Regions from separate parts of the Homo sapiens genome. Here region 2 is linked to region 1. The links come from fine-mapping of genetic effects on gene expression. Tissue or cell type: whole blood. Region 1 holds a variant in brackets; the other region holds the start of a gene. Each region is shown on its reference strand, or each on the opposite one.

What was found.
Region 2: it holds the start of TREML1, and the variant in region 1 is fine-mapped to the expression of TREML1 in whole blood (TOPMed, PIP 0.94).

Annotation. Positions count from the first base shown.
Region 1 is chr1:117,627,649-117,633,022 of GRCh38, forward strand. TENT5C (terminal nucleotidyltransferase 5C) reads left to right here. Exons shown (of 2, transcript NM_017709.4): 2 at 1-741. Among named protein-coding and RNA genes, the nearest start is that of TENT5C, 24 kb to the left of the region's middle. RefSeq lists enhancers at 2,660-3,210, 3,211-3,761. The variant A/G (reference allele first, on the strand shown) is at 2,268.
Region 2 is chr6:41,151,886-41,157,259 of GRCh38, forward strand. TREML1 (triggering receptor expressed on myeloid cells like 1) reads right to left here and starts at 2,462. Exons shown (of 6, transcript NM_178174.4): 1 at 2,361-2,462; 2 at 1,873-2,205. The coding sequence starts at 2,403.

The DNA.
Region 1 (5,374 bases):
GATTCACATCCTTAATCTTGCAGAGACTAGAATTTCACAGCTCGCTTTGGAACATATTCCAATTCAACCAGTTAAAATCAGAGGACCAAGTCGTGGGGGAGGGGGGCGGTGTTGAGGAGAGGTATTTTTAAAGATCTGGCAACTTTTCAGGATTATTTGTGGAGAACTCTAAGGTTAAGATCAGGAAATAAAAGACTGTGTGTGTGTGTGTGTGTGCGTGTGTGTGTTCAAGTGCCTAAATCTTGTTTACCTATCACTTTAAAAAAATAATTGAAGTGTAAGCTAAATAAAATGCTTGGAGTTTTGCCTGGGCTAGTGAGAGTTGGTGCAAATTCTTGTGTGTGTTTGCATAGGAAGGTGAGATGACCATCTACTAAAGAGGAAGTAGCTAAATACAGATCTGTGGGTGTTTTTAAAAAAACTCAACCTATCTGGTGTTTTATTTTAATGGATAAAAATGTAATTTTTCTAAGGTAGCAACTTATTTCCAAATTAATATAGATGAAAAATAGATACCAATTAGACTAAATTGAAAGCTTTTTGTTCTATATTTGCATAGCCTTTGAAATATTTCTTAGTGCCTAGGAGGTCTGGGGATTCCTCTTTCGTGGTGGTCACTAACCTTACTTGATGCAGATAAAATCACTTGTCAATGCAAAATGTGTTAGAACTTGATAAAGCTTTGAGTTTGAGAAATAAAGGTATATTTAAAATTTAAATAAAACTTGTCATTTATGCTCATTGATTTGTTTCTTCTCAATGATGAATTTTAGGTTTTAGGAAACATTGAATAGAAATAGGAAGCTGTCAACATCAGCCTTGGATGCTTCTCTGAAGGACAGATGCTTTTTTGAGGGGGGAGGGCTGTGTGGTTACCTTGGAGACCACAAATCCCTTAATATTTGGGCTCTTTTTCAAGGTGCCCAGCTAACTTAAACTAGGCTTCGTTGTTGACCACAGCCTTTCAGCTAATACCCACGGCAGGTGTAGTCTTGCAGTTCGCCTTTGCTGGCACCTTGTTTAATTCAGTCCCTTTAGCTCCTAGCCCACTTCAACAACAACAAAGAAAACAACTTCAGCCATACATGTACAACTACTGTAGTTTCTTCACATTTTTAAAGAAGTATAGAAGTGAACAAGTGATACTTGGAGTGGTTGATAGATGTTTGAAGGGTATAAAGAGATGCTGTAGACTTTGGTTAGCAACCTTCCTCCTCATTCCTTTGATCTAATTCACAACAACCCCTGCCCACCCCAAGTCTTGCCCCTTCCGTGGCCTCCCTTCTTTGTGGAATTTCTTTGAAATCCTATGGCATTCTCCTAACTGTCCTCATGAAACTTATGTCTTTGGCTGTGTAAAATCCTTCATCCCCTTGCCTCCACCTGTCCCTGCTCCTCCTCAAACCTTTCAGCCAAGGATGTGCATGCTCTGGAGTCTGGTAGGTGTGGAGTCCTTCCAATCACTTCTTTGGCATGTTTACTCAATAAGTAACCCTCACTCCTCTTAAGCCCTGACTGCCAGCTCACACTCTCCATGTTGCCTCTTCACTCCTCCCTTCATTCTGCCCATCCACATCCATGTCAGTGGCCTCTTTAGCTTTATGATGGACTACCTCTGTTCTAGTCATCTACTCACATCGGTTAGACACTGTCTGGATCTAGAACTGTTCATGAAGGCTGGGGTGACATTCTTCTCTTTTCACTACAAGAATTGGGATCATTGAAGAGCAATTTTCTGATCTTATGCTTGCCCATCAGCCATCCCCACGATCTTCTTCCTCCCCATTTTTACTGCGTGTACCTTCTGAAATGTTCCTTGACTCTGCCCTCTTGGTTGCCTTCAGCTCTTGCTTGGGCTATTTCATGAGTCTTGTCTCTATTTTTCTTGACTCTGTCAAGGGCTTTTTCTAAAACAGATGTGCCTGGGCCCCTCCCATACATTAAAACCTGTGTAAGACCCTACTGTGCAAGAGCAGATGTCAGACTCAACATGTCTGTGCAAGAGCAGATGTCTGGAGCTAGCTAGCCCCAGTCTACCTTCCTATCCTTTGACCTACTATACTAAGCTGGCCTACTTGGAGTTCTGGAGCACACAGCTTCTTCCGTGCACGTGACCCCACAGCAGGCTTCTAAAATCTCAGCTAATCCTCACCTCCTCTGGCTTACCAGGCCCTATGTCTGCCACCTCCCCCTTCCTGCTTTTTCTATTCGTGTTCTTACTGGGTTGCATCAGCTCTTCACCCACATTGTGAACACCTGCGTGCTTC[A/G]TTCTCTGCCCACTTTTCACATAACTGGCATAGATTTGGTGCTTCAAATGTTGAACTGGATGGGTTTTCCCTGGAGGACTTGTCCTTGGGCCATTAGCCACTTAGAGGCTGAATCCTGGATATTTACCTGAATGTGTTGTAATGCCTCATTTTGGTGCCAGAAACCATTTCAGTCCCCTTGTCCAGACCAATATTTATACGCAGGACAACTTGTGTGGGATGTGCTGGTGCCCAGCTTCCTGGAATGAGTAGTCATGTCCCGGACACTAACACAATTGAACACAAGCTCTTGGCCCCTGAGCAAGGTCAGTACTAAGGGTTGCAGTCTTCACGCTCAGCAGTATTATTTCAAACTCCCCACCCACCCAGTCCTCCTGGCAGACCTATCCTTCTGGTGTTTTAGTAGAATTCCTCTCATGCCATCCCCAAGTGTTCATTCCTCAGCCTTGGAATGAAGCTCCCGTCGTTGCCACCCGGGACCTCTAGGGTTCCAGAAGTACACTTCTAAACGAGCGGGGATTCTTTTTCTCCTTCACTGTCCGAGTAGTCGCCTGGGCGGGATAGTAATGCGCTTGGTTGTAATCTGGGGTTAGTATCAGCTGGAAGATGCTGAGAGCATCAGCAGGACCTGTGGGGGTTTTCCATATGACCTCTGAGCAGCCAGAGCCTCAGTGTGATGGTGCCATTCTGCCACCTTACCTTGGCCTGGAGCCTCATCCTCTCCAGAGGCCTTCAGCTCCGTATGCACTTATGGCAGGTGGAGTCAGAGGCAAGTCAGGGGTGGTGCCCAGACTGGGCTGAGTGGTCTACCCCTGCTCCCTGCCTAAAAGCTGAGTCAAGCGACTTCCTGTCCGAAGTGACGGCATTGGACCTGGGGCCACGGTGCTGGTTTCCTGCCTCCTGGCCCTGTGCCTTCTGCAACACGGGACTGTGTCCTTCCCTGGGGATAAATGCTACCTAGAAGCATGTGCTGCCCTGGCGGTGAGCCACTCCTCAGTACTCTGACTGTCATCACTCTCTCAAGCAGGTTTCTGTCAGTGCCGCCCAGAATCTAGGGAGCTGGAGCCTGTCGGGAGGCTTGGTTTCATACCATTCCTCACCCAGCTCAGAGCAACGCAGGCTACCTGTTCTGGCCATGACTGGATCACAGGTCTCCCAGCTCAGGGCATTTTCACCACAGCAGGCCATCCCAGGGCCACCTTTTACTTAGGAAGTTTCCGAAAATGGGAAATGTCCCTAAGGGAAAGGCATGAGAAGCTGGAGTCGCTGCCTTTCTTTCGGGTGCTTCCCTGGAAAAAAGGTATCCGAGGCTATAGTGTTCGAGAGAGAGAGAGATGGAGACGGGCAGCACCACAGCAACTTTGGCCAGGCTGTTTTCAGCCATTTCAATCCATCCCTTCCATATGGATAGTAAATGAGGTTTTTCTCAAGAGGCCTGTTGGGAACTAAACCCATGAGAAAATGGAATGAGAACTCCTCACTTTAGACTAAGGCTTTAGGTTGACCAAGTACACATTGCATATACATAGCTTGCAGGTCTCAGAAACGTGAGCTAGGTAGCAGTGTTTCCACTGTACACAGGAGCCAGAGGCTCAGTGCGCCTCTGAGTTGCCCAGGGTTACGTATCTTGTAAGAGACAGAGCCCATGCACAAAGATTTGACTGCAAAGCCTGGTTCCCCCACTATTACAACACTGAAAACACTCTGTAAACTATAACTCACCCTGCAAATATTAGTTTTTATGTCAGCCCCCTCTCAAGGGCCTAAGAGGTGTTGAGTTGCCTGGTAATAGATCCGTTTCCACTTATCCAGGAAAGGAATTCCTTGGACAAACCAGCAGCTTTCCTCAGACAACCCTCCCTTTGTGAATCAGGTGTGGGGGGACCCATTGCAGGCTCGTTAACATGTTTGGGGAATGCTCATGGAGCACCAGGTCCCATGCTAAGCATTAGCATTTAATCTTCCAAAAAGTCTGAGATAGGATGATTAGGTTTACAGGTGAGGAAACCTAAACGTCATACAGCTGCTGCAGCCAGCACCTGGCTCTGGGGTGTCTGACTCCCAGGCTCCAGCTGTCAGTTCTTTTACAGTATGCTATTTTGTCTTTGTCCTGCATTTTACAGGGTGGCACATGGAAGAGGCACGGGAGAGCAAATATCCTGCCTTCCAACAGAAGCCTTTCAAGAGGAATGAGGAGGAGGACAAAGCCACTGATTAAATTGATTAGTTAAAATTAAAAATTAAGCCAACTGATGAAGTTAAAATAGGGTGCCTATTGTGGTTGGCATGGCATTTTAAATTAGAATTGAAATGGAAACAGCATCACAGTTTCCCCCACACCTTATCCAGGCAGCCATGTACTATGGGGGTATTTAAACTACCTGCAGGCTGGAGAGGAGGGCGGGGGAGTGCAGGAGGGCTTTTGCAGAAGTCAGGAAACCAGCTCACCTGCAATGCTGAAACAATGAAACCAAGAAGGGAGGGGAGTCAGAAAACTAATAGCACAACCCTAAGCAGTTCCTGGAGTCAAACACCTGTGGTTTTTCATGCACTAAATATAGTGGAAGTTGGGTCATCTTATCCTTAAATAAACACTACAGCTAGCAAAGACTTTTTTGAAAAGAATCTTTACATTGGCTCAGGTAAGCGGGAGCCTGGGAGAAGCAGCGCTTGGGTGGCTGTGAATGGTCTGCGGCAGCCTCTGGTCCTCATATCCCCTGCTATCTCAGGATCCCACACAAAACATTCCTCTGTGGTTTTTTCCCTGCTCTTAAGTCAACTGCATGTACCTTGTTGTCCCTGTGCCCTTCATCCCCTCCCCCTACCGTGAGAGATCAGTTTCCTTGGCCTTCACCTGATCTGACCAGGAACAGCAGGAGAGGTGCTCCCTCTCTCTCTCTAGCTCTGGCAAAAGAGGCAGCTTTTCAGCAGGCTTATTTTCCATCCTACTTTAGATATTACTGAAAGGAAATGAACTCTTCTTTGACTTTGCCTTTTGAATTTTGGATGCTGCTGAATCGGGCACAGTCCCTCCTTTAGGAAACATTAAACCAGAGGCTTGTGGCCAGGTTTCTGGCTTGCTGTTTGAGTGGCAGTTTGGTGCCCAG
Region 2 (5,374 bases), not on the chromosome of region 1:
TCAGGACTGAAGAAAATCTGGGTGGGCCCTCATGTGATGCAACACAAACCAACTGACCCTTGCTGAGAGCCTTGCTGGGATCCTGAGACTCAGTTTGAGGACAAGGCTTCTGTCACCCATATGATGTGCTTGACTTCTGGCTGCAGGACTTGGGGTTGGTTTCTCTGGGCCTGGAGACTTGTCTTAGGAACCTGGCCAGTCCTTTCAGACCGACTGGAATGGGGCCTTGCCTTGTTCTTGAGAGATTCACCATTCCTACTCCCCATCCTATGCCACACCAGGAACTGGGGTTGCTGTGGCACATGTCCTGCCCTCCTGGTGCCTATTAGGCTGCCTTTGACCACCTTCTCTGAAGCTAAATGCTCACCTGAGCCGCAAGCCACATCATCTCTGGATGCTACGCGCCACCTGCCTGCCTGAACATCATCCTCCACAGCACCTGCCCCATGGCAGCAGGTCAGGGGCCCAGGTCCCTGCCTCCCTGACGCTCCTCCCAGGGAGTCTCATCTTGTCACAATTTGCCTTTTAGTGAGTTAGAACCTGAATTTAGTAACTCAAAGTGTCAAGGAATGAGGAGGGCAAAGGATGACAAGGATTAACAATATATTTATAATATAAAACAATAACCACAGGCTTGAGATGAGAAGGATTCTAATGACAACATAGTCTACCCTCTTATTTAGAGGGAAAAAAAACAAGGGAAGGGGCCAGGGGTGGTGGCTTATACCTGCAATCCCAGCACTTTGGGAGGCCAAGGCGGGCAGATCACTTGAGGTCAGGAGTTCAAGACCAGCCTGGCCAACATGATAAAACCCCGTCTCTACTAAAAATACAAAAATTAGCTGGGCATGGTGGTGGGCACCTGTAGTCCCAGTTACTTGGGAGGCTGAGACACAAGAATCACTTGAACCCGAGAGGCCAAGGTTGCAGTGAGCCGATAGTGCCACTGCACTCCAGCTTGAGCAACAGAGTGAGACCCTGTCTCAAACAAAACAAAAAACAAGGGAAGGGAAAATGCTCTACTTAATTTTATTATTTGGGGGTTGGGCATAAAATATGAGAAAAGGAAGACCTAAAGGTGAAAAAATGGCCAGTATCCATAAAAGAAAAGGAGTGGCTGTCTGTGCTTCAGGTAGCTGACCATTTTTTATTTTTAGAACATCCTATCTTTCTTAAAAAAAAAAACCCAAGTTTTTAATATTTTAAAATTTTCTTTTAACAAATGCTTATATACTAGAAAAGTTATGGGCTGTGGGAATGAAACCTGCAAAAACAGTGTCTTTAATACTGAAAATAGGGTCAAGAATATTGGCTTAAAATATTAATGACATTTTTCCATTTTTAAAACGAAAGGAGTTGAAGTTGTTCAGGCACTGAATGTACCTACTTGTAGGTGAGACATACTAGATGGCCTGTGAAGACTTATAAAATTAATTAAGGTATGAATTCCATAATTCTTAAGCCATCAAGCCCGCTATTACAGGAATAAAACACTGGAAGCTACAAAAATTAATTCTGGTTTTATACACTCAGATTCAACATTGTTTAAAATATTTCTAATTAAAAAATAAGTTAGCATCAAGTATGTTGAAAATGCTGGAAGAAGAGGCCAAGTCCCTGGAGTGGGAAGGACATGCCTTCCTGTGGGGAAGCGCAGTAGTGTGGAAGGGGGAAAGGGATGGTTTTCAGCTGATTTATCTCAGACTTCCCACCCAGTTTGGTTTCCGCTCCCTGCAGAGCTGTCAAGAGGATATCTCCTTGGAATGCCTCCTCCCCAGGGGCCCCCACTCCTCAAGAACCCATGAGCCCTGGCAATAGGCGGGGGTGGGGAGGGTAGGTCTAAGGGGTGGTAGCTGGCCTAGGATAACTCACCTGGGGGCAGTATGTTCAGAGAGACTCTGTGCAAAATCTGGGGCCCCCTGGCCCCATCCACCATGCAGCCATACTCGCCAGCATCCTCTTCCTGCAGGGTAACCATTTCCACCTGCAGCAGGCCCCCACCCAGGTCTGTGAGAAACGTACGCCTGCCCGCTGGAGCTCTGCGATCCACAGCTGAGGACACCAGGGGCTGGCACCCCTCCGGCAAGAACCGGCACCACACCTTCTGAGCTTTGACATCCTGGAGCCTGTAGTGGCACTGCACCAGAATGGAGCTTCCCACGGGTGCCTGCAGCACCTCAGGGAGGCTGCCAACTATGCCCTGACCTGGGGAAGGAAAGGAGGTGGGAATTTTGGGCAGGAGCTGGGAGCATCTCCCAGCCCAGCTGCTGGTATGGGTGTGGCATTCACAATAACACGTTACTCCTGGACATGGGGCTGAGCATATGGGGCCCAGAGCTGCAGCTCCTCCTGAACCTTACCTTCTAGTCCCAGGAGCAGCAGCAAGAGCAGGGTGAGGCCCATGGCTGGGCAGAGAAATGTCAACTCCTGGGCTTGCCTGGGCACTGATGCAGCATTCGCCTGAGGGCAGGAAACATCTGCCTCAGAAAGTCACTTGGGGTGGGAGAAAGGAAATGATGGGCACCTCCAGGGGTGGGGAAAGGGAGTTCTTCCAAGCCCTGGTTGGCTCAGTGCTCAGGAACTGCCCTGAGGGTAAGGGTGGGCAAGACAGGATGAGAAGACCCGAAGAAAGCTAGAAGCCTGCAGGGGCTGGGGCCCGGCTAAGGGGTGAGATGGGAGGATTGTGACAATTGGAGGACAGGAGAGGAAGAGGAAAGATGATCTTCAGGATCTTCCTAATACAGAATCTGAGGGTGCACAGCTATGAAGGAGGAAGGTAGAGTGCCCTGCACCTCACTCAATGCCATTCTTGCTCTCAATTCTTTGGGAGTGCCCCACGACCACCCAAGCTTTTAGGAGGTTGTATGCAGTACAACCTCAAACAGGAAGTTTCACCTTGATCCTGTGCCCTGGACTGGGTCTTTCTTCATTTATTGTCCTGGACACTATAGAACCCTTCCATCTGGATCCACATTCTTCAGTTCTGGGAAACAAATTCTTACTTTGATAATTACATGTCCATTTTCTTCTCCCCTTCCATTTTTCTGCAATTCCTTAACTAGTTGGTTATTGAATGTCGTGTGTTCATCTCATTTTCATATCTTTTCTATCTCATTTTCCATCTTTTTGTCTCTTTTGTTCTGCCTTCAAGGAGATTTCCTCATTTTCTTCCATCCTTCTATTTTTGTCTTTTAAAATGTTATTTTTTAATATTTTTAATTTACAAGACAAGATATTCCTTATTCTTTGAGCATTTTTAAATTCTGGCATACTATTTTTGTTTCATGAATGCTCTATCTTCTCTGTTGGAAGACAATTCTTCACAAATATTTTCACATTGCTGCATGTTCTAGTCCTTCTGTGCAAAGGGTATTGGCCAAGTTTTGCTGAAGGGTGATTGAATAGCAAACATACCTTGAGTGCAACGTCCAGAGATTTGCTCGCATTCTTCCTCTTCTTCACCGGAGATTTACATTCCAGAGTAAACGTTTCTCTCTCTCTCTCTCTCTCTCTCTCTCTCTTCCAGAGAGGAAGATATACCAGATTCTCTATATAAACTCCAAGTCTCCTAATTTGGGGGTTTCTCTCCTGTGATCCAAACTCACTGCCTGCACAGGAGGCACCTGGCTCTCATTCATGTTGCCCTGTGGAATTGGGCTCGAGGAACTGGGACAAAGTGTGAGTAATAAACCTAATAAACTATCTGACCTCAGACACAGGGGAAGCACCAGTGGTCAGAGAGACTACAGCAGCTGGGGATGGGTGGGAGGGGCGTATTGCCCTAATCTGGAGGGTAAGACCTAGAAAAGGGCCTGGAAAGGCCATTCTCCCTCACTCCCATCTCCTCCCGTCTCACCTTTTTTCCTCTTTTTCCTTCCTTCCTTTGGGAACAAGGGAGTGAGGAATGGGAAACTGGGAGCAGGAGCATGAGAAAATCAGTTAATGTGTTAAGCTGGGCCTTGTGGAAGTGGGAGATTGGGTGACCAACTTCCCGTTTTTGCTTGGGATTGAGGGGTTTCTTGGGACTTTCTGTGCAAAAACTGAAAAAGTCCTGAACAAACCAGGACGGGTCACCCTAGTTGGTGATGTGCTTATGTCTGTCTTGCCAATGCATATCAGGCTTTCTTTGATTTCCTTATAAGAAAGTTATTTTCATACTAACAAGCCACCCAGGCGTGTTGTGTGAAGAGGTGAACTGTATTCAACACTGGACTAAGTGTTGAATATGGTCCACTGCTGGGTGCTGAGACAGAGGTGACCAGGCAAGATCCTGGCCTTCATGGAGACATCATGTTGCTGGGCGTTAGATGAAGGAAACCAGTGTTTATTGAGGACCTACTATGTGCCAGTCACCTGGCCAAGGACCTTCACAATGTTATTTCTTTCTTTTTTTTTTTTCTTTTGAGACAGTCTCACTCTGTCACCCAGGCGGGAGTGCAGTGGCGCAATCTTGGCTCACTGCAACCTTGGCCTCCTAGATTCAAGCAATTCTCTGCCTCAGCCTCCCAAGTAGCTGGGACTATAGGCATGCACCACATGCCTGACTAATTTTTGTCTTTCTTTTTTTTTTAGTAGAGACAGGGTTTTGCCATGTTGGCCAGGCTGGTCTTGAATTCCTGGCCTCAAGTAATCCACCCCACTCAGCCTCCCAAGGTGCTGGGATTACAGGCGTGAGCCACCATGTCTGGCCACGAATGTTATTTCTTTCAACCTCACAAAAACCTTGCAAAGTAGGGGAAGTGGTTGTTTTGTTTATTTGTTTCTACAAGCGAGGGCACTGGGTTTTAGAGGGATTGAGGAGCTTGCCTAAGGTGTCTTAATAGGAGGCAGAGTTGAAATTTGAGGCCAAATGGCCTCACTTCCCTTCAGTCCAGAGTGCTCGCAGAGAGTCTGAGGCAGGAGAGCCTGTGGTGATTCCAGTCCAGAGAGGAATGTCTCTGACATGGCAGAGAAGGAAAGAGAAAAGGCCAAGCTCCCATGAGGAGGAAAGCCTGATTCTGGGCTGGGGCTGATGGCAGCCACTGCCCTGGAGCACGAGGCAGGCCGCGGGGAGCCTCCCAGGCCATTTCATCGGCACTGGTGCCCACAACTGGGGCAGGAGGTAGGTGGAGAAGGCGCAGTTTGGGCTCGGCTCATTCTTGGTGCTACCTGTGCCCTAGATCTATAGGAAGGGGGCAATGCCCCAGGACACAATGAGGAAGTTTAATGTGCCCCTGAGCCAGGGAGGCCATGGGAACACAGGTTGGACCAGAATCCCAAGGCTCCAGGACAGGGAGCCAGTGGAGCAGCTTACATTGGGAGTGGACAAGGCAGGGTTGGGGCACAGCTGGGACCAGGGGAGTGACATGTTGAAGTGAGGCTGGAACATGAGGGC